Homo sapiens: one gene and its partner. The protein of the gene in region 1 purifies or fractionates together with the protein of each later gene. This does not show direct contact. Each region holds a gene or a part of one and is shown in the gene's direction. Other genes may lie near its edges. The genes, in order: KIRREL1 and UBR3.

Region 1 (11,235 bases):
AGCTGGGGTGCAGAGCAGCCTGAGGATTCTGCTCCTTCTTTTCTCCAGGGGCAGGGCTCAGCTGCTCCCCTTCCCTTGGGCTCTGCTCTGAGGGAGGGGACACACAGAGGGATGTCCTGGCTGAGAGGTCAGGAGTGAAGGGGTTTGGGGCTACTCCCCTCTGATTCCTGCCTATTGTAAGAGTCTGTGCATCAGAGGGAAAGAACTCTCTGGGGCCTTCCCTCCAGAACCTGGCCTCCATGCTCAACTGGGGAAATGCCCTCACTTCGTTAAAGTGTACTGAGCATTTGCTATGTGCCAGGCTCTGCCCCAGGGGCTGCAGAAAGAGCTGTGAACAAGACACAGTCCCTGACCTCAAGAAACTTTCGGTGTAGTGGAGGAGGGACTTACAGAGTGGTAGTAAATTAATTCGGATGGAGAAGAATCATATGAACTGCAAAAGGGAATAACACGCCCATCTCATTGGGTGGACGTGAGGATTAAATTAGAGAATATTTACAAAATGCCTGGCATACAATAGGTGTTCAGTAAGTATGGGTTCCCCTACCTCTTCAAGAATTGTCACTCTGATAGCAGAAAAGTGTTCTCTCCTTTAAGGCACTTCTCACATGATAAAAGAGGTATTCCTTTGACTTTTTTGGAAGCTACCAAGTCCAAGGAGGAAAAGATAGCATTTTTTTGTTGTTGTTTTATTTTTTGAGAACTAACCATTTGACATAGGAGATGGAGAACCACATGGAAAATGACAGCATCCCATCACTTCAGTCTTTTTTTTTTTTTTTTTTTTGAGATGGAGTCTTGCTCTGTCGCCCAGGCTGGAGTGCAGTGGTGCGATCTTGGCTCATTGCAACCTGTGCCTTCCGGGTTCAAATGAGTCTCCTACCTCAACCTCCCGAGTAGCTGGGACTACAGGCACCCGCCACTACGCCCGGCTAATTTTTTGTATTTTTAGTGGAGACGGGTTTTCACCGTGTTAGCCAAGATGGTCTCGATCTCCTGACCTCATGATTCACCCACCTCGGCCTCCCAAAGTGCTGGGATTACAGGCATGAGCCACCATGCCCGGCCTATCACTTCAGTCTTAACTAAGGATGCCAGCAAGGGGGTTGGGGGTGGGGAAGAATGGAGTAGATACAGTAACGTGGGGCTCCACAGGGAAAGATCTCAGAGGGGAAGAGCTATAAGCAGGATCTGGATTCAACTAGGGCTGCTAGGAAGACAGAGAAGGCTGGAAGCAGGATTCCTGAGCTCTTCCTCAGCTCTGGGAAGCAGAGGAAACCAAGGAAAACTGTTGGAGCCCTGAGTAGATAGGTGAACATTCGGCAGTCACAGTGGTATTATGGATGGCACAGTGGTGAAAGATGTCGGAACACGGGTGGCAGATTGGAGAGTTTGGAGACAGCTGACCTCAAAGAAGAGCGAGGGGCCAAGCATCATAGTCAGGTGGGCTGAAGGACAGGGATCGACAGACAACCAAGACCAGGGGCAAACTCCTGCCCCAGCTGCAGGGATGAGACATGACCATGATCTCCATTCTGATGGAGCTGGAGCACAGACCAAAATCCAACCACAATGCAGACCTTCCTCTCTAATCCAACCTTGACTTAAACCTAACACTGTCCCCAGGCTCAGTCAAAACTTAGCCCTGTACACAAGCCAAGGTTGCCTCTGTGGCTGTGGCCTAGCCTTTAGCCAGCACTGAGCTTAGCTCCCAGTATAACTCCAGCCTCACCCCTCCACCTTTCCTTCCCCATCGAAAGAGGTGTTACCTGTGGGCATCATAGCTGGGGCCACCATCGGCGCGAGCATCCTGCTCATCTTCTTCTTCATCGCCTTGGTATTCTTCCTCTACCGGCGCCGCAAAGGCAGTGAGTATGGGCCCTGTGCAGCCCACAGCCTTCCCCTGGCTCTTCCAGGGCCATGACAGGCAGTGCTTGGGGTGGATGGGAGGTTGGCCCTTGAGCTCCAGCCCAGAGGGAGCCAGAAGCAGCCGCTGCAGAGACCAGCAGGAAGCACTTGTTCCAGGCTGCCTCTCCCGTCCCAGGTCGCAAAGACGTGACCCTGAGGAAGCTGGATATCAAGGTGGAGACAGTGAACCGAGAGCCACTTACGATGCATTCTGACCGGGAGGATGACACCGCCAGCGTCTCCACAGCAACCCGGGTCATGAAGGCCATCTACTCGGTGAGGGTCCTGCTCCTCTCTGGCCTCCTGCCTTCTCCACCCTCTGAGGACCAGCTCCATCCCAGATCTCTAATAACCGCGGTCATTCTCTCCTTCCTCAGTCGGTCTTCCCTGGTCCTGCCACACACACTCTCCCACACTCACACACATTCTCTCACACACGCCCCAGGCTAGTTTCCTCCAGCAGAGGATAGGCAGCTGGGATTGTCCAAAGACTTCCTTTGCCCCACAGTGTGTGAAAGTTGGAAGCCCCCAGAGGCTTTCTGGTCCATCTGCCTCATTGCTGAGATGAGGAAACAGCCCTGGAGAGGGGCAGTGACATATACAAGGTCACATTACATGTTAGCAACCAAACTAGTGCTCGAACCAAGGTCTCTGGCCTCTTCCCACCACATCCCAGAGCCTCTGCTGAGAGGACCAGAACTCAAGTCTGCCCTTGACCTCAGACCCCACCCATGAGCAGGTGGCCTCTGAGCGTGGGGAGGGGTTGGTGAGGGGCGAAAAGAGCAGGGCTTCCGTCTGCTGACGTCCCACTCCTGCTGCTCCACAGTCGTTTAAGGATGATGTGGATCTGAAGCAGGACCTGCGCTGCGACACCATCGACACCCGGGAGGAGTATGAGATGAAGGTGGGAAAGGGGGAAGGGGCCAGGGCATGAGGGCTGGTGGGCCAGTGGGTTTCTGAGGTCCTGTAGCGGGGAGGTGAGGTGAGGACAGACTTGGGGAGGAGTGGTTGGGAGGGTTTTTGAAGGAGCAGAGGAGGTGGAATGCTAGATGGGGACATAGGGAGAGCTGGAGGAAGAGGCCCAGAAAGCCATGGTGAGACTTGATCCCCACCCAAGAGGGAACACTGCCTCCATCCTCTTCTCTCATTGCCCCCAGGACCCCACCAATGGCTACTACAACGTGCGTGCCCATGAAGACCGCCCGTCTTCCAGGGCAGTGCTCTATGCTGACTACCGTGCCCCTGGCCCTGCCCGCTTCGACGGCCGCCCCTCATCCCGTCTCTCCCACTCCAGCGGCTATGCCCAGCTCAACACCTATAGCCGGGGCCCTGCCTCTGACTATGGCCCTGAGCCCACACCCCCTGGCCCTGCTGCCCCAGCTGGCACTGACACAACCAGCCAGCTGTCCTACGAGAACTATGAGAAGTTCAACTCCCATCCCTTCCCTGGGGCAGCTGGGTACCCCACCTACCGACTGGGCTACCCCCAGGCCCCACCCTCTGGCCTGGAGCGGACCCCATATGAGGCGTATGACCCCATTGGCAAGTACGCCACAGCCACTCGATTCTCCTACACCTCCCAGCACTCGGACTACGGCCAGCGATTCCAGCAGCGCATGCAGACTCACGTGTAGGGGCCAGAGCCTGGCTGGGGCATCTCTGCGGGGCAGAGGAGAAGGCTTTCACAGCTGTTCCCTGATATTCAGGGGCATTGCTCATTGCTCCCTTCTCGGACCAGCCTTCTTCCTCCCACCATGGCAGGTGGGGAGCAGGTCTCCCAGAAACACCCCGTCCCGAGGATGGTGCTCTGTGCATGCCCCAGCCTCCTGGGCCTGCCCTTCCCTCTTCTTCGGGAGGATGTGTCTCTTCTGACCTGCACTCTTGCCTGACCCTAGAATGGGGACAGGGAAAGTGAAGGTTAGGGAAAGCAGAGGGGGGCACTTTTTAGCATTCCCTTTCTATCCCACCCCTCTGATCTCCCATAAGTGGAAATGGGGGTACCCAGGGATGGGCAGGCTTTGGCCTAGGGACATGAAGTATGGGAGTGGGTGGCTGTGGCACAGACAGGTGGAAAACGGGATAGCCTGGCCAGTCCCTCTGTTGTCTGCATTCGTGCCCTGGGTGCCTCTCTCCTTCCTCAGGGTACTGCAGAAGGGAGCGAACAGGGTACTGTTCGCTCTTGTCTACAGAACAGCCCTGGCACTGCATTCAAATCCAGTCTTCATTCAGCTGGGATCAAAATGCCAGTCACCTTGGCTACCCACTGTGGACAGCTGTCTGTCAGCATGCAGAGGGATCCAGGAATCCCCCCGGCAGCACGGCCCGCTTTCCTTCTCCTCCATGCTGGGCCAGCCAGATAAGTCAGGGTCCTGGTGGAGAAAGAAAGGCTAGGACCATGTCCTCATTGACCCAGATACTGCTGTGTGCTGCACAGCAGTGAACCAACACTAGAGGGAGCCACACAAGCCTCCTCTCCCCAGTCTGCCCCACTTCCTGGCTTTAACTCTTGAGCTGGTTTGGGGAGTGGTGAGGTAGGGGTGGGGGTGCTGTAGGCTCTTTTTCAAAGAAAACAAAAAACAATGAAAACCTCATTTGGGAAGAAAAGCTGTAGGGATTCCCCCACCCAAATACAAGTCCCAGTGGAAAGGAAAGGTAGTACCTATTCTTCTCCATGGGGTTCCTAACACCCTCCATTACTCTTTCAGTCTCCAAGCACTTTGAATCCATTTTTAAACATTCAGGTTGCCAGACCTGTCACACAGTGGACTCTGATAGGGTTACGGAGGGGGCCTGGCTCTCAGTCTCTACTCTCCTATGTCCCATCAGTTGGTTGGAGGCCACCTTCCAGGGGGTATGGGAGACAGGTTTTGGTTTTTAAGTGTCTTTTTTTTTTTTCTTGGACCAATCAGATTCCTTCTTCCACTTTCAGTGCCTTGAGTGTCAAGCTTTGGATGACCGACCCTATGTGGGCGGTTGTGTGGGGAGTGGGTACTTGTGAGCCTCGGACACACTGTTAAGTGTTACAGTGTTAGGAGAGAGATGGGTGAGGGGACCTGGAGAGGTAAGGGGCCTGGAAATGGCCCTGACAGAGAACTTGTGCTGACCGGGAGAAGGTGGTGCGGAAGGGCACCGCAGGCATTACACAGGCCATTTCTCCTCCTCCATGTGCACGCACATCCAACACACACCTTCCATGTGACTGCTTCTCAGCCACCACTTTCTGACCAAAGAGAACAGGCGCTCCAAGGAGAACCTGTACCCCTGCCCCAGCCTCGCCTTCCTAAAAAGCAGTGTCTGGAGTTGGCTGTTTCCCGCCTCCCCAGCTGCATGTCCAGCCCAGTGGGAGACAGGGCCTCTGGTGCAGTTCCCAAAATGTTCCTCGCCCTTTCTCCGTGGTCACCATTCATAATTCATGTTCGCTTTAATGAGTTACATGCTTATCAGCCACAGGCCATTACCACCCTTATGGATGGGTCTGGGGGGCGACATTCCTGGCCAACCCCTTGTAGGAAGGACCAGATAATACCCAGGAAGCAAGTAGCTCTAATTTTAACTTCACAGGAAGTCTGTGCATCCTCCTTCATTTCAGCAGGGAAAACTCCTGTGGAGTGGGCCCTATCTGGGGCATTTACAGGCTTCCAGCTGTATTCCATCCCTGGAAGCTGATACCTTTCTATAGAGTCCTTTTATGAGAGCTCAGTGGGAAGGTCTGTCAAGAAATTCAGGTTCTTGTACAGACAAATTCATGCAAATTTCTATTATTTTCACAAAAACCAGAAACCATGGGGGAATCCAAAGACTTGAAGTCTAAAGATGGTGGCTTTTAAAACATGCATATTCCAAAAAGAATTCATTTTTGTTTTGGGTTTGGCTAGATTCTCTTATTTATCCCCTTTTAGCTTAAGTATTAGTTTCATTCTACTGAAATGATGGAGAGAGGGCCTAAGGTTACTAGGTAATTGAGCTGATGGTGCAGGGAGAATTGTTGAGAAAGGAAGCCTAGTTTCCAGAAGCCTGACACAGAGCTACTTCACTGTCCTCTACTCCTTAACAAGGTAACTGGAGCCTCTTGGGTGTCAAACAAGCACCCTGGAAGGCACAGGGAAGCATCAGCAACCAAGGTAGTCTCTGCCCTCTGTAACTTACGTGTTGGTGCATCAGAATCTGAATTGGAACCTACCTGATGGGCCCAGTGGAATAGCTTTTCTGGGGAGTGGAAGGCGTCCTTGATCACAGAGCTTTGCTGTCGAATCCTGGAGTCCTGCAACATGGTGATGCCTCAGTAGTTGGTGATCCTGATCACCTTTGGTGGCTTGTTTTAGTGGAAAGAGCAAGGGACTAAAGGTCAGGAGACCCAGGACCCAGTCCTGAAGCTGCAAAGGTTAGATCTCGGCCTAACTTTCTGTTCATTGCCCCCAATTTGTCTGGCCTGTAAAATGAAGGGGGAGGGTTGCATAAACCTAAAACTATTCTGGTTTTGTTATACCCATAGGGTTGGGGGTAGGGATGGGACTGCCCATTGCTGGCAAGGAACTGGGAACAGTAGCAAGCATGGTGAGGGCTGGAGAGCTGGCTGGGGGGGTTCTCTCCTGTTCAAAGAAGCTTTCACCATGGGCTTCATTATCTTGTCAGAAGTGAATTAGTTTCCACCAGGGACCCCTTTATCCCAAACAGCAACACAAAATACACCCTAAACCTCAGAGTAAAATTGATGTGGGGCTATCCTTTGGCTATCGGGTCATCTGTGCTGCTCCCCACTCATTTCTGATGGGTTTGCAAAGGTGCCTTTTGCCAGGGCAGGACATAGTATGCACATAGGGATATTGTTATGTGCCTAGGTTTCAGGCACTCCTTCTGTAGGGGAAAATGGGAGGAGCCTTCCTCCACCCTGATCCTTAGGAACATTCCTCTGGCCCAGGGACAGCTTGTTCTTCTCACCAAACAGGTGAAGCCTGCAGTCCAAGGTGCCTGGAGCCAGAGGTCGGGGAGTAAGCACAGCTGCCCCTGCCTGAGAAGGAGCAGCTTGCAAGGGGAGCCGGTGGAGGGAAAGGGGTACAACAGCTTTGGAATACATTCTGGATCTTGAGGAGGATCTTGTGATTTTGGCTGAGCCACGGTCACTTCCCTCGTGAAGGACCCGCCCTATATCCTAAATTCTGGATCCCTCAAAGTCCAGCCACAGAGTTTGCATGAAGCAAAAAGCCTAGTAAGTGAGAAAGGAAAGGGGCCAGGGATGGGAGCAGTGCTGTGCTGTTATCACTGTCTTGCTTGGAATGAAAACATCTGAGCACCCTGTCTTCAAGCGGTACGCTCTCCCCTTATTCCAGCAGGGCTACTTTCCTCTTCACTCTGATGAGGGGAGCTTTATCTGCTTTCAAAATGGAGCACGTCGCACTGGAGTTTCGTGCCCTCTCGTTAACCTGTCAGGAGCCACAGGGCTCCATAAAACGGAATCAGTGTCTCAATATACATGACCTATGTTCATAGCAATGTTCAGCCATTTGGGTTTGAAGAAAACCACATTAAAGCCAAGACCCGTTTGGAGCGAACTGCCTTGTTCTTTGCTGTGTGGAAGGTTCTGTCCCTACTGCTGAACTCCAGTTCCTCCCCAAGCACCCTGGCCTCAGAAATCCTGGCTTCCCCAAGTTAGTGCTGTCTGACCTGAGCCAGGCCACTGCTTGGTGCCTCTACAGGCCACTGTGCATGTTGAGAATTGCCCAAAAGGATTAGTGAAGCTCCTGACCCTGGCGAGGCCATAATGAACACTGAAGTGCACAGGCCAAGGGATGTAATTGAAAGGCATTTATTTTTGTGAAGATGCTGTAAAATTAGCATTTAAATATCCCATTCCCTTCTCTTGGCCTCCTCCTATCCCCCTATGGTATTTCTCCTCCTCTCCTCAAGGCCAGGCTTTTTGTGAAAGGCATTGGCTCATCTTTGTCAGCGTGGTCCTGACGTTCACCTCTGGGCTGCTGGAGAGGACTGAGAGATGTGTGGTTTGGTAGGAAGGGGGTGTGTGTGGGGGTTAGTGGGGAATCCCATTTTTTTGCATCACTGTGAGGTAGCTTCAGGCCCTGTCCCTGGAGAAATAATTGCTGCGCAGAAGTCACAGGCCATACTGGGCAGTTCTGGTACAAACCTGCCCTTATTAATAATAACAATAATAATAATAACTCCATTTGCATAGAACTGTCACTCATTCCTGCCAGTCTGCTGTCCCTACCCTGGTTTTTTGCTGGCCCCAACCACTGGCCTTGTTGAGTATCGATGGGCCCTGAGCTCTTCTGTTTGCTTTTGGAGCTCTTCAGATGCTGTCCCCCCTGAGAATACCCTAACTCTGGGGAAAGAGCAGCCAAAATCCCAATACAGTAAAACTCCACACAATCTTGTTAGCAACAGTGACCCAGAAAATTTTGAGAAGTCCAATTTCACCAGAAGAGGCCCAGGGCTCCCTGTGGTCACATTTTCTACCCAGCCATTCTTGGCATTGCAACCTCCATTTCTAGCTCCTGTTGAATTTTCTCCACCCAGACCCCAAAAATAAATGGATCCATGATGATAATTAAGAGAAGAGAAAAAAAGATATTATTTTTGTTAGGACAAACCATTGTAGGTTTTTAGCAATGTGTATCTGTGTGTCCCTCACACCTTTTCCTATTCTACTTTTTTTTCCTTTTTTTAAAAATATTATGTACTATATTTTTAGTCTCAAACACACTATATATTATATATATTTAATTTTTTTATATATATAAATATAAATGTTTTAAAAAGTACCATGTTTTGTGTTATTTAATGCATTAACGGCTAGTTACTTAAAAGCCTGCCTGGCTTTGGGTGTTAGTCCTGGTTTGGGGAAAAAACAGGTTTGGATTGAAATTGCAGAAGCAATGTTTGTGCCACCTCCAGGCCGTGGGGCAAAAACGTATTCTCTAGTTTGCCACTTGTGCAGAACCCTGAGGCCAATTATGGCAGTTCAGGGACAAACAGCTGGAGGCTTCTGCTATTGGAAAACAGCATCCAAATGTTCTGTGCCAAATCGCATTATGGGAATGGGAAAAGGGGAGACTTTTGAATCTGAGATCTAGATCCCAAAGGAATTGGGACAAGTGTGTAAGAATGGCTGGTTTTGTTTATTTAAAACGCTGTGGTTTGGGTAAAAAGCAAAGTTACAAGGTCTCCAACCTTTTGAACTTGTAGTGAAGCAGAATGAAAAAACAGATGGTGCAGCAGTGCACACACACAGAGGCCATCCTGCTGAGAAATCCTAAATTCTCTGAGTTGAGTTCCCAAGGGTTTCAGTTTGCTCATTTCTCAGGAGTGTTTGCAGATACCTGAAATAGTTTTCAGATAATGTTTTGTTTTATTTTGTTTTGGACTTTTATTTTGTTTTGTTGTAGAGGCTATGTTGCCCAGGCTGGTCTTGAACTCCTGAGTTCAAGTAATCCACCCACGTCGGCCTCTGGAGTCGCTGGGATTACAGGTGTGATCCACTGTGCTTGGCCCAGATAATGTTTTTTAAAGCTATAAATCATTAGAGAAATAGGGTTTATTGTTTTCTTCATCCAGTTAACAACGAAGCAAACTCAAGACAGTTTACCGTAGCCTTTTTTGTACACAAGGGACACCCAACATAGTCAGAGAGGAAGACAGGATGTAAGAGCTGAAAAAATACTTTCGAAATAATGCAACCCATTTCCAAGAGGGCTAGAAGTCACGGCACAGGAGCTGCAGCTGAGGAAGGGTGCAAGGTGCCATGGGGCCTGGGGTTTGGAGGCATGTAGCCAGGACCAAGAACCTATAGGTAGCCCAAGGTGAATCCAATCCAGATGGGAATGAGAGGCCGACGTACAGGTATATTTGGAGGCTGCATTGAGGTAAGTTGCACTGGCATAGGTAAAAATGGCATTGATAGAATACAAAAGCAAACAGAAAAGAGTAGGGAAAAAAGACCAGGAGAGGAAGCAAAGTTGTGCAAATGTGGAGGCACAGGTGAATACTATTAGGCCAAGTGGTGCTGGGGCGCTTCCTATGTTATGTGTCCACCTGGGATACATTTATTCATCTCCACATCCCCAGACCCCAGCACAGGGCCAGCAGGTTCTTTGGGACGAGTCTGTATAGGGCACTACATAAGGCCCCAAGGGCCTAAACCAACTCTCAGCCACAAGAAAGGCCACAGGACTTTGTCCCTGTGTATTAGGCCTCTTTCTGTGATGGGAGCCCCAGCCCCTCTAAGTCACCTCCAGCCTGAGGATAAGTAATAATGACACAGCCCCTTTATCATCTGGCTTTGCAAAGTTGTAAAAGCCACCCCCTCATTGTGAGGCATTTGTGTCACAACAGGAGCTATTGGCCCAGGCATAAACACACTCCTGTGTGAGTTCAAATTTCTCCATGAGATGACCCCACATCTTTCACTTACTTCACAACCCTCCCTTTCACTTACCCTACATTTCAACACAGTTAAATGGAATTATGCCTTGTTTGTGGTATGCCCCTGAACTTTCCTCCCTCTGTGCTTTTGTCCAAGCTCTTTTCTCTGCCTGGAGTCCCTTTACTTTCCCATTTCTAAGTTTTACTTATCTTCAAGGCCCAGCCCAAAGGCCATCTCCTACAGGAAGCCTTGCCTGACTCATTACTCACCTTCTATTCCTCTCTGGAAGTCTCGTGGGTTAGCTATTATGTCACTGATCTCATCTCATTTATAGCCCTTCTGCTTTGATAACAGGATGTTGTGTATGACACATTAGCACTTTCCTCCTAAAAGAAGGTCACTGAGAGGCAGAGAGCATGTATCATTTATTTTAGTATCCATCACCCAACAGAGTGCATGTAGTTTCTCAGCATGTGCTGGAGGAATGCAGGTATGGAGGGAAGGAAAGAGGGAGGAGAAGCAAACCATAAACACAATACATAAAAGGAATTTATCCTAGGGGAGTTTTTCATGTGCATCTGTGTGAAGAGACCACTAAACAGGCTTTGTGTGAGCAACATGGCTGTTTATTTCACCTGGGTGCAGGCAGGCTGAGTCCTAAAAGAGAGTCAGCAAAGGGTGGTGGATTATCATTAGTTCTTACAGGTTTTGGGATAGGCAGTGAAGTTAAGAGCAATGTTTTGCGGGCAGGGGTGGATCTCACAAAGTACATTCTCAAGGGTGGGGAGAATTACAAAGAACCTTCTTAAGGGTGGGGGAGATTAAAAAGTACCTTCTTAAGGGTGGGGGAGATTACAAAGTACATTGATCAGTTAGGGTGGGGCAGAAACAAATCACAATGGTGGAATGTCAGCAGTTAAGGCTATTTTTACTTCTTTTGTTGATCTTCA
Region 2 (12,117 bases), on another chromosome or scaffold:
AGTTACAGAATACCCTCCATACCAGGAGAACAAACAAAATACTGAGCGAACCAGGAATCAAGTGTTAGGTCTTCTCCAGTTAAGGGCACTTTGTTCACTCACTGATACGTGAACCTCTGTCTAAAAGGAGACAACAAATGCCCTTTTGACAGAAGCGATGCATCAGATGTTGGGACTTATGAGAAAAGACATTTCAGAGTTTGCAGTGAGTTACAGAGAGTTGGTACATGTAGGGTCGTGGCTTGGAACATGATGTCAATGTCAGGGACAGTCTGAGAAAAAAGGAAAAAGTGAAAGGGGCGATTTTGGATGGGCAGTAGTTGAAAGAATATTAGCAACTACAGGTTGCTATCAGTTATTAAACTTCTTCAATTTTCAGGTCTTAGGATTAATGACAGAGTACAATCTTTTTATAAATGGTCACCTTTTTCTTCGGAGTACTTGTAAGGTTACTGTTACTCCAAAATGTTTGTACCTACTATGTGCAAGCAAGGCTTCTTGGATATTAAAAATGAATGAAACATTGACCAACCCCTTACTCTACTTGCACTGGAGTAGAAAGTAATAAATTCCTTAAACAATAACTTGGTAGCTAGAGGAGGGAGATGAGGTTTCTGTGCAGAGGGAGTAAGAAAAAGTCTTCAGAAAGGAGGTATTTTGAATTTGCTAATAATAATAACAACATAATTGCAGCTAACATTTGAGTTTTTTTTTTTTTTTTTTGAGACGGAGTTTCTCTCTTGTTGCCCAAGCTGGAGTGCAATGGCGCGACCTCGGCTCACTGAAACCTCCGCCCCCTGGGTTCAAGCGATTCTCCTGCCTCAGCCTCCCAAGTAGCTGGGATTACAGTCATGCACTACCACGCCTGGCTAATTTTGTATTTTTTTAGTAGAGACAGGGTTTCTCCATGTCGGTCAGGCTAGTCCCGAACTCCCGACCTCAGGTGATCCGCCCGCGTCGGCCTCCCAAGTGCTGGGATTACAGGCGTGAGCCACCGCGCCCGGCCAACATTTGAGTTCTTGAACTGTATGTCTGATACTTTAAAAGTACTTTTTAAAATTTAATATTTGAATAGGTAAAATATATAGCTAAAAAGTACACACACACACACACACACACACACACACACACACACACGGAAGTTTTTCTCACATCTAGTCTTCTATCTGTCCAGTTCCTTCCCGCTTAGTTTCTCTTGGTGCAGAACAAGCAAAGATGTTTCCTAGTTTTTCAGTCTCTTTTTATGCAAAGGGTTACATACTTTCCACTGTTCTACATCTTGCATTTTTTGGTTATCTTAGATGTATTTTTCCTATTAAAAAATCAGTGTCGTCATTCTATTTTTTTAAAAAAACTGCTGCATAGTGTTCCATGTTTTCAATTTGCCATTCTTTAATTTCTTTTTTTATTTTTATTTTTATTTTTTGTGCGTGTGAATTTGCCATTCTTGATTTAATGTCTCTTCATGGGCATTTGGCTTTCCAGTATAAAATTAAAAACGTGGTGTATCTGTCTTTTCCCCACCTGGTCAAGAGAGTCAGTGGGATAAATTCTCAAAAGTGTGATTTCCAAATTGCCCTCCCTAAGGCTTAGTACTAATTACTCTGTGAGACTGCCTGTTTTCCAACAGCCTCATCAACAGAGTAGTAGTAAAATTTTGGACTTTTATCTATTTGGTTAAAAGTGGCCAAATTCTAGCTGTTTTATGTGATTTAACTTATTTATTCTTTGACTCTGAGATTATTACTTTTATTATTCTCATTGTACAGAAGAGGAAAGTAGGGCAGAGTTAAAAACCTTGCTCAAGTTCACACAGGCAGTAAGCTAGGCATGCTGGCTCCAGGGCTCTGGAGCCAGACTAATCAACCATTTCTCTTTACTGCCCCTACTAAATAGCATTCTTACTGGTTTTTCTTTTCAATTCTATGTTTTATCTTTTTTTTTTTCCTTAATATGCTATTCTTATTTGGGCCTTTGTTTCTTTCTTTTTAAACTTTTTTTGTTTGTTTTGTTTTAAAGAGGCACATCAAAACAGGAGTTGGAGCAATCCTTTACTGATATTTAGACATTTTTACTTCTTGGACTGGGTTAGCATTTAGGAAAGCCTCCAGAGAACCTGAAGGTAGGAAATAACACTGATTCTTTCCTGACTTTTGGAATACAGTGGTAATTATCAGGTTGTCGTGGATGAGATGGAAGTCTGATCGCTTGTGATGCTTCAGTGTACTACCAGAAATATGTCAGTGAGTTTCTTTGAAGGTATTCATACAGTTTTAGGGCATCCAGGCTATAGACAGTCAACATCCTAACCTCATGGTATTTGCTTTTACTGGTGTCTCATAGGTAAGTATTATTTTCCCAGTCTGGCAACCCTCTATGAGTTGGTACATTATATATATATATATATATATTTTTTTTTTTTTTTTTTTTTTTTTTTTGAGAGAGAGAGTTTTGCTCTTGTTGCCCAGGCTGGATTGCAGTGGCACGATCTTGGCTCACCGCAACCTCTGCCTCCCGGGTTCAAGTGATTCTCTACCTCAGCCTTCCAAATAGCTGGGATTACAGGGATGCGCCACCACACCCGGCTAATTTTTTTTTTTTCTTGTGTTTTTAGTAAAGACAGGGTTTCTCCATGTTGGTCAGGCTGGTCTTGAACTCCTGACCTTAGGTGATCCACCCGCCTCGGCCTCCCAAAGTGCTGGGATTACAGGCATGAGCCACCACACCCGGCCGGATACATAATATTTAAAGATTTATTATTATCTTTGTCTGAAACCAGAGCTATTGCCTGTATGTGTCAGCAGTTGCCATGTCCAGTTTCATAAAGGGCAAGATTGAACAATAAACAGTATTGTGGCCATGCAATTACTCTGAATTTTTTCTAACTGCTTGGATTGGATAGAGTAATTTTCCTGGGCTATACAGCTAATTTACTGCCTCAAGAGAAATAGGTGATGTTGACCAGCTCTGCAACCTAAAAGACTGCCTCTGGAACCTTTTTAGAACTGGAAATCATCAACAGCTTGTAACAGTGTTCTCATGGGCAAAGCTGGACTACACTGGCATGAACAGAATGTTTGAACTTTTCTAAGTTTTTGGTATTTTAAAAACCCCTTTAGATTGCCAAAGATTGAATGTGTGTTGATTTTGGGGTTTTTATTCTAACTGCCATAAGTTTGTAAATTTCATGGTTTAGTCACTTTTAGAGGAAGGATTCCTTTTTTTCAGCTGTATTTGTGCTCTTAGTAAATGAGAATAAATCTTTCTGTGCCATAATCCTTTTCACCAGTGTCTGACTGTTGCCTGTAGGATGTTCTTGATTGGAGATGGAGAAGAATCTTGAATCTATCACAGCTGTATTTATATTTAATTTTCAAATTAGCAATTATAGAACTGTGGGGAGGATTTAGTTATTTTTGACTGAGTAGTATTGATATAATCAATGTGGCAGTATTAGCAGATATACAAACCAAAGGAAGAAAACAATTGAGGATTCATTTGTGGGATGAAATCACAAAGGCTATGGAAATTGTGTGCTAATAACTGTATGTGGCTGGGCGCGGTGGCTCACGCCTGCAATCCCAGCACTTTGGGAGGCCGAGGTGGGCAGATCACGAAGTCAGGAGATTGAGATCATCCTGGCTAACATGGTGAAACCCCGTCTCTACTAAAAATACAAAAAATTAGTCAGGCGTGGTGGTGGGTGCCTGTAGTCCCAGCTACTCGGGAGGCTGAGGCAGGAGAATGGCGTGAACCCGGGAGGCGGAGCTTGGAGTGAGCTTGGAGTGAGCTTGGAGTGAGATCCCGCCACTGCACTCCAGCCTGGGCGACAGAGCGTGACTCTGTCTCAGGAAAAAAAACAAAAAAACTGTATGTATAACTACAGTTTTGCCACTAGTGAGTAAGTGCAGTCATTGTCAGAAATGCTTTATGGGGGCCGGGCGTGGTGGCTCACACCTGTAATCCCAGCACTTTGGGAGGCCGAGGCAGGCGGATCACCTTAAGTCGGGAGTTCAAGACCAGCCTGACCACATGGAGAAACCCCATCTCTACTAAAAATACAAAATTATCTGGGCATGATGGTGCATGCCTGTAATCCCAGCTACTCTGGAGGCTGAGACAGGAGAATTGCTTGAACCCAGGAGGCGGAGGTTACAGTGAGCCAAGATCATGCCATTGCACTCCAGCCTGGGCAACAAGAGTGAAACTCCATCTGGAAAAAAAAAAAATGCTTTATGGGTGGATGAACTCAAAACAAAATAACCTGTAATGGAAAGTCTAAAATACACTCGTTCCTCAGTATATGGTATACATAGGAGACTGGTTCCAGAATACCCACCTCCCACCCACTCTTCAGGGTATACTGAAATGCTGCTTATATGAAAAGTCTGCCCTTCATGTATGTGAGTGTCAGATCCCATGAATTCTGCATTTTTGATCCATGTTTAGTTAAAAAAATCCTTGTATAAGTGGACCCTTGTAGTTCAAACTAGTGTTGTTCAAGGGTCAACTGTAATGTCTGACTAGCTGGTTTTGGGCTCTGATGGGATACTAACTGGAAACTGGGATTTTAAACATTTAGTTCTCAAATTTTGGTGCAGAGAATGAGGAGTTTCATGTTCTGTCCTATATTACAGATATTTTTGTCTCCTTGCTTGTTCTTCCTCACATATTCTAAGCTCCTTAAAAGATAAGGACCACATTTTGCTATTAGCCAGAGGCCAGCACCTACTAAGTCTCTTGTACTTAGGAGGTGTCAGTAATTTTGAATTAAATTGGATAAAAAAGTGGCTGCTATACCCAAAAAGTTACTGTAAGATTACATTGCTTTAGTTACTCATGAGGTGGCATTGATTATTAAATCCATAGCAGCTTTTTTCAGAGTGCTTTCATTCTTTTTTTAGTTTCAGAAGTAATACACATTGATTATAACATAAAAATAAGTGGATAAAGTAAAAAGTAAAGGTGCCTTTCTCCATCCTACCCCTCAGTAAGAAATTTCCTTTTCTTTTAAGGTTACTTATGTGTTTAAAAGAGATTAGTTATAATTTATCCAGCATTTCTAGATTTTTTTTTTTTTTAGTGACAGGTTCTCGCAGTGTCTCCCAGGCTGGAGTGCAGTGGTGTGATATCACAGCTCACTGCAGCCTCTACCTCCCAGGCTCAAGTGATCTCCCACCTCACCCTCCCAAGTAGCTGTGACTGTAGGCGCACACCACCACACACAGCTAAATTTCTTTTTGTATTTTTTGTAGAGATGGTATTTCACCATGTTGGCCAGGCTGGTCTTGAACTCCTGGCTTCAAGCAGTCTACCTGCCTCAGCCTCCCAAAGAGCTGGGATTATAGGCGTGAGCCACAGTGTGGTGCCTGGCCTGTGTTGTGGGAGGTTTTTAGGTTTTCTGATCTGTGGTAGCCAGAAATTGAACCACGTGAATGTCTGGTTGAATAGTGTTACTCTCTTCAGTAGCTTGCTTTTTTCCCCTTAACATATTTATGGATACTATCTCAAAAGTAGAACTGCTTCATTTTTAAAGTTAAATAGTATTTCATTGTATTTCCATGTTTTTGTAATGTACTATGATTTTTGCGGTCAGTCCCTACTGATAGACATTTAAATTGTTTCCAGACTTGGGCTGTTGTAAACATTGTTGCAGTCAGTATTCTTGTATACACTTGTTCATATGTGTGTGAGCTTATGTATGAGGATACATTCCTAGAAGTTATATCTTGGTTGAAGGAAATTTGCAAATTCAACTTTGATAGAACCCTCCAAAGAAATTAATTTACATTCCTGCCAACAATGTATGAAACAATTTGTTTCCCCATATTCTGGCAGTATATATGGTGGTATCAGTGTTTCTGATCTTTGCTGCTCTCATAAGTGAAAAGTTATATCCCATTTCATCTGTTATCTCCCTGTCCCACTGCTTTTTCGTCCCAGCCAGGACTATTTTGAAGCAAATATCAGATACCTTATAATTTAATTTAAAAATATTTGAGTATGCATCTCAGTAAAGAGATGTGAACTCTAAAACATAACTCAAATGTCCATCAGCAGATGAATGGGTAAGCAATATGTGGAATATACGTACAATGGAATATTTAACCTTAAAAAGTAATAAAATTCTGACACATTAGAATGTTACAATGTAGATAAACCTTGAAGACCTTATGCCAAATGAAATAGGCCCAGCACAAAAGAACAAATGCTTGTATGCTTCGGTCTATATGAAGTGCCCGGAATAGTCAAATTCATACAGACAGAAAGTAGAATAGTGATTATCAGAGGCCAAGGGAAGGGGAGATTGGGGAGTTATTTTTTTAACAGGTACAGAGTTTCAGTTTGGGAAGATGAAAAAGTCCTTGAGATCGATGGTTGTGATGGTTGCAAAACAATGTGAATGTACTTAATGCCACTAAAACTGTACACTTAAGATGTTTTAAATGGTAAATTTTATGTTATTTATATTTTACCACAATTAAAAAATAATGTCAGGTATGGTGGCTCGCACCTGTAGTCCCAGCTACTCCCGAGGCTGAGTTGGGAGTATTGCTTGAGGCTGGGAGTAAGAGGCTGCAGTGGATTATGATCACACCTGGGAATAGTCACTGCACTCCAGCCTCAGCAACATGAAGTGACCTCATCTCTTGAAAAGAAAGCAAAAAACAAACAACTCCCCCAAAACCACAATACCAATACTACACCTAAAATATTCATATTTTGTTTGTTTGTTTGTTTTGATATGGAGTCTCACTCTGTTGCCAGGCTGGAGTGCAGTTGCATGATCTCGGCTCACTGCAACCTCTGCCTCCTGAGTTCAAGCGGTTCTCCTGTCTCAGCCTCCCTAGTAGCAGGGACTACAGGTGCATGCCACCATGCCCAGCTAATTTTTGTATTTTTAGTAGAGGTGGGGTTTCACCATATTGGTCAGGCTGGTCTGGAACTCCTGACCTCAGGCAATCCACCTGCCTTGGCCTCCCAAAGTGCTGGGATTACAGGCGTGAGCCACCGTGCGTGGCCTAATTTTTAAATCATTATAAAACTCAGTTAAAACTATTTTCAATTATGAAACAATTTGAATTTACAGAAAAGTACAAAAGTAGTATAACAGATACCTTTGTACTTACCATTGAGATGAATAGATATTAACCTTTTGCCATGTTTGCTCTAGAGTTGCTTTTAGTCAAAAAACCAAAGAAAGGTCAACCCACCTTTCCCTTTCTCTTTTCCTCTCCAGACGTTAACCATTTTCCTGAAATTCCTGTGTGCACTGTCTCTCTCTCTCTCTCTCTCTCTCTCTCTCTCTCTCTCTCTCTCTCTCTCTATATATATATATATATATATATATTTTTTTTTTTTTTTTTTTTTTTTTTGAGATGGAAACTCGCTCTGTCCCCATCAGACTCAGGCTGGAGTGCAATGGTGCGATCTCGGCTCACTGCAACCTCCGCCTCCTGAGTTCAAGCAATTCTCCTGCCTCAGCCGCCTGAGTAGCTGGGATTACAGGCGGCCGCCACCATGCCTAGCTAATTTTCATATTTTTAGTAGAGATGGGGGTTTCACCATATTGGCCAGGCTGGTCTCGAACTCCTGACCTCCGGTGATCTTCCCGCCTCAGCCTCCCAGAGTGCTGGAATTACAGGCATGGGCTACCACGCCTGGCCCCACCAGGAATTTGAGGTCTTGTTTTTCTGCTTATTGAAACTTGGTGTTAATGAGAACACATGGACACCACGAAGGGAACAACACACACAGGGGCCTGTTGGGTCGGGGGCAGGGAGAGGGAGAGCATCAGAAAAAATAGCTAATGCATGCTGGGCTTCATACCTAGTTGATGAGTTGATAGGTGCAGCAAACCACCACAGCAACCATTTACCTATGTAACCTGTACATCCTGCACATGTAATTCAGAACTTAAAAAAAAAAAAACCAAAAGACACTTGGTGTTATATATATAAATTTATAATATTTTACCAATCTGTTGGATACAAACATCTTTTTAAAATTTATATTTTCTTGACTAGTAAAGTTGAACATCTTTTCATATGTTTTGGGGCCATTTGGGCTTCTTTCTTGGTGAACTGCTGGTTCATATTATTTGCCTGTTTTGTTTTTCTGTTTTACTGAGTTTTAAGAATGCTGTACATACTCTAGATGCTGATCCTTTGTTGTATAAATACTTAATTTCATCTTCTAGTTTGTGTCTTGTCTTTTTACCTTGAAATATATAATTTTGTTGTAAACGATTTTAAATTAAAAATGTAGTTTTTCTTCTACAGTTTGTATTATTTGTATCTTGTTAAAGAAATCTTCTTCACCTTGGTTTAAAAAAATGCTTATATGTTTTCTACTGAAAGATTTAAGGTTTTTCATTGTACACTTAGGTCTTTTGTCCATCTGGAATTTATTTTTACATGTAGTATGAGATTGAGGTCTGTATTAGTCTGTTTTCGCACTGCTATAAAGAACTGCCTGAACGGGCCCGGAGGCTCACGCCTGTAATCCCAGCACTTTGGGAAGCCGAGGCAGGTGAATCACCTGAGGTCGGGAGTTCGAGACCAGCCTGACCAACATGGAGAAACCCCATCTCTACTAAAAATACAAAATTAGCCGGGTGTGGTGGCGTGTGGCTGTAATCCCAGCTTCTCGGGAGGCTGAGGCAAGAGAATTGCTTGAACCTGGGAGGCAGAGGTTGCGGTGAGCCGCGATCACGCCATTGCACTCCAGCCTGGGCAACAAGAGGAAATCTCCGTCTCAAAAAGAAAAGGAAAAAGAACGGCTGGAGACTGGGTGATTTATAAAGGAAAGAGGTTTAATTGACTCACAGTTCAGCATGGCTGGGGAGGCCTTAGGAAACGTAGAATCATGGTAGAAGGCACCTAGTCACAGAGCAGCAGGGGGGGAGAAGCGAGCAGGGGAAATGCCAGATGCTTATAAAACCATTACATCTCGTGAGAACTCACTCACTATCATGAGAACAACATAGGGCAAACCATCCCCATCATCCAGTTACCTCCACCTCATCCCACCCTTGACGTGTGGGGATTATGGGGATTACAATTCAGGATGAGATTTTGGGTGGGGACACAACCAAACCATATCATTAGATCTAATTTTATCTTTTTCAATATGAGGATTCACTTATTGAACATTTTTTTCCTCCATTGATCTATAATGTCACCTCTATCACAGACCAAACCTATGTGTGTCCTAAGTTCTCTATTGTATTGATATGTCTCTTATAACAATACCATACTACTTTATTAGAACATTAAAATGTATTTTGATATGGCAGGATTTCCTTATTATTAGTCTTCAAAAGGGTTTTTGGCTGTTCTTGGTTCCTGTTTTCATTTGAATTTCAGGAGCTTGTCAAGTTCTCTGGAAAACTTCTGTTAAGATGTTGACTGGCATCACATTAAATATGAGGAGGTTGCAGAAAGATACATGTTCAAGTATGTTCATTGTAACACTGAAATAGGGAAAAATGGAAACAGTGAGATTAGTGAACTGTAGTTTAATCATTCAATGGAATACTTTATGGCAGAATACATAAATTGCCATCCATCTTAGTCTGTTTGTGCTGCTGTTACATCAGACGGAGTAATTTAGAACAGAAATTTATTTATTCCAGTCTGGAAGCTGGGAAGTCCAAGATTAAGGCATTTGTGTGTGTGTGTGTGTGTGTGTGTGTGTGTGTGTGTGTGTGTGTGTGTGTGTGTGTGTGTCTGGTGAGGCCTTCTTGCATACTCACATGGCAGAAGCGGGGAAGAGGGCAAACAGGGCCTAAGGTAGTTCCCTCCAGCACTTGCTTAAGGCAGAGCCCTCATGACTTAATCACATCCCCAAAGGCTTCCGCCTCTTAATACCACCACAGTGGAGATTAAGTTTCAATGTGAATTTTGTAGGGGACACACGTTCAGACTGGTGCTCTGCCTCTGCCCCTCGCCCCCAAAAAGTTTATGTCCTTTTCACATACAAATACATTCATTCCATTCCAGTAACTCCAGAAGTCTTAACTTGTTCTAGCACCAGCTCAAAAGTCTAAAGTTGAGTCTCATCTAAACATCATTTCAATCAGATACGGTGAGACTCAAAGATACGCTTCATCCTGTGGCAGATTTCTCTCTAGCTGTGAACCTGTGAAGTCAAACAAGTTACCTGCTTTCAAAACACAGTGTCTACACTGTTGGTGGGAATGTAAATTATTAATAGTACAGCCACTGTGGAGAACAGTATGAGGTTCCTCAGAAAACTAAAAATAGATTACCATGTGATCCAGTAATTCCACTACTGAGTATATATCCAAAAAAAGGGAAATCAATATATGGAAAAGAGACCTGAAGTCCCATGCTTATTGCAGCACCATTCATAGTAGCCAAAATATGGAATCAACTTAAATGCCCACCAATGGAAGAATGGATAAAGAAAATGTGGTATATATGCACAATGGAATATTATTCAGCCACAAAAATAATGAAATCTTGTCATTTGTAGCAACATGGGTGGGACTGGAGGTCATTATGTTAAGTGAAATAAACCAAGGGCAGAAAGACAAATATCACATGTTCTCACTCATGTGTGGGAGTTAAAAAAGTGGATCTCATGAAGATAAAGAGTAGATTGGTGGTTACCAGAGGGAAGGGTAGAAAGGAGGAGGGGGATAAAGATAAGTTAATTAGTGGATACAAATATATGGTTTGATGGAAGAAATAAGACCTAATGTTAGATAGTATCTATCAGTAGGGTAACTGTAGTTTACAATAATCCATTGTAAATTACAAAATAGCTAGAAGAGAAGAATTTGAATGGCTGTAGCATAAAAAGACAAATATTTAAGGTAGTGGTATTCCAAGTACATTGATTTGATCTTTACAAATTATATGAATGTATTACATTATTACATGTACTCAGAAACTATGTACATCTATTATGCATCAAATAAAACACACACACACACATATAGTGCAATGGTGAGAGGCAAGCACAGATGTGTTCATTATGAAGGGAGGAACAGGCAAGAAGAGAGGAGTGACAGATCACAAGTAAGTGTAAAACTCAGTAAGGCAAACAACATTAAATCTTAAGGCTTGAGAATAATTGTCTTGCTTTCTGGACACACTGTGTTGGGGGTTGGGTCCCCAAGGTGTAAGAATTAAAGAAAGAGGAAAGAAACACGAAAGGTGGCTTGCTGGTCAAGACAGATTTATTTTAGAGAAAACAAACCTGAGAGGAACCTTCTGGCAGAGTTAGGCCCACTGTCTTACAACTAAGAGTTTTTAAGGATTCAGGGTGGGAGGCTTGGACTGCTTCTGTGTCTCTTTGTTGTGCTTATCTGGGAGGGAGAGTTGTGTGTCTGTTCCCATACTTTTTTCTGCAGCTACAGGCATACCTCCCGAGTCTGCTTTTAGCTTCCCTATCTTAGTGCACTTGAAGGGAAAGGGATGTGCTTATTAAGGCCCACTGTTTTACTGGGGCCCATTGTATGAGCCTGAAGTTTGGCAGTTACTCAAGAGACTTTCCCCCCACCTCCCTCTGGGCCTGAGCTGTCTTATCTGTGTTTTACTGTCTGCTCTTTCTGGCTGCTTGTAGTTAGCAGAGAAGTTATTTCCTTGAAATGCATGAGGCTAGAAAGGGAGCTGGAACTAAAGTGGCGGTATCTGACCGAGATGTCGGTGCTCCTGCTCTGACACAAGGCTCCTCCGGGTGGCTCCACCCCTGTAGCCTCTCTTGGGTGCAGTCCACACTGTACCTCTCACCGGTTGGAATCAGGTACCCGTGGTTCTCCCAGGCTGGAGTTGCAGGTTGGTGACTATGTGACTATGGTTCTGGGGTTTTGGGGGCAACCCTGCCCCCATAGCTCTACTGGGTGTTGCCCTTGTGGAGACTCTCTCTGGTGGACCTGCCCCTTCCCCCCACCGCGGACACCACTAGGCATTGCCTTCGTGTGGACTCTGCTGCTGACCTGCCCTGTGACAGTTCTCTGCTTGGGCCTCAGGCTCTCTGGTACATCCTTGGAAATTTAGGTGGAGGAAGCCATGCCTCCACAGCCTGCAGAGTTAGCAACATGTGGACACTGGGAAGGCTGCTTACTGCTTGTTCCTTTGGGAGTGG

Evidence for each region.
Region 2: the proteins of KIRREL1 (region 1) and UBR3 purify together in Homo sapiens (co-immunoprecipitation; 2 studies listed by BioGRID and IntAct, with this or other methods). This does not show direct contact.

Annotation. Positions count from the first base shown.
Region 1 is NC_000001.11:158,091,579-158,102,813, forward strand, and holds the end of KIRREL1 (kin of IRRE-like protein 1 isoform 1 precursor), read left to right. Parts: intron 1-1,760; coding exon 1,761-1,868; intron 1,869-2,044; coding exon 2,045-2,184; intron 2,185-2,734; coding exon 2,735-2,812; intron 2,813-3,065; coding exon 3,066-3,542; 3' UTR 3,543-8,684; downstream 8,685-11,235. UniProt on the Homo sapiens protein: Required for proper function of the glomerular filtration barrier. It is involved in the maintenance of a stable podocyte architecture with interdigitating foot processes connected by specialized cell-cell junctions, known as the slit diaphragm.
Region 2 is NC_000002.12:169,828,718-169,840,834, forward strand, and holds part of UBR3 (E3 ubiquitin-protein ligase UBR3), read left to right. Parts: intron 1-12,117. UniProt on the Homo sapiens protein: E3 ubiquitin-protein ligase which is a component of the N-end rule pathway. Does not bind to proteins bearing specific N-terminal residues that are destabilizing according to the N-end rule, leading to their ubiquitination and subsequent degradation.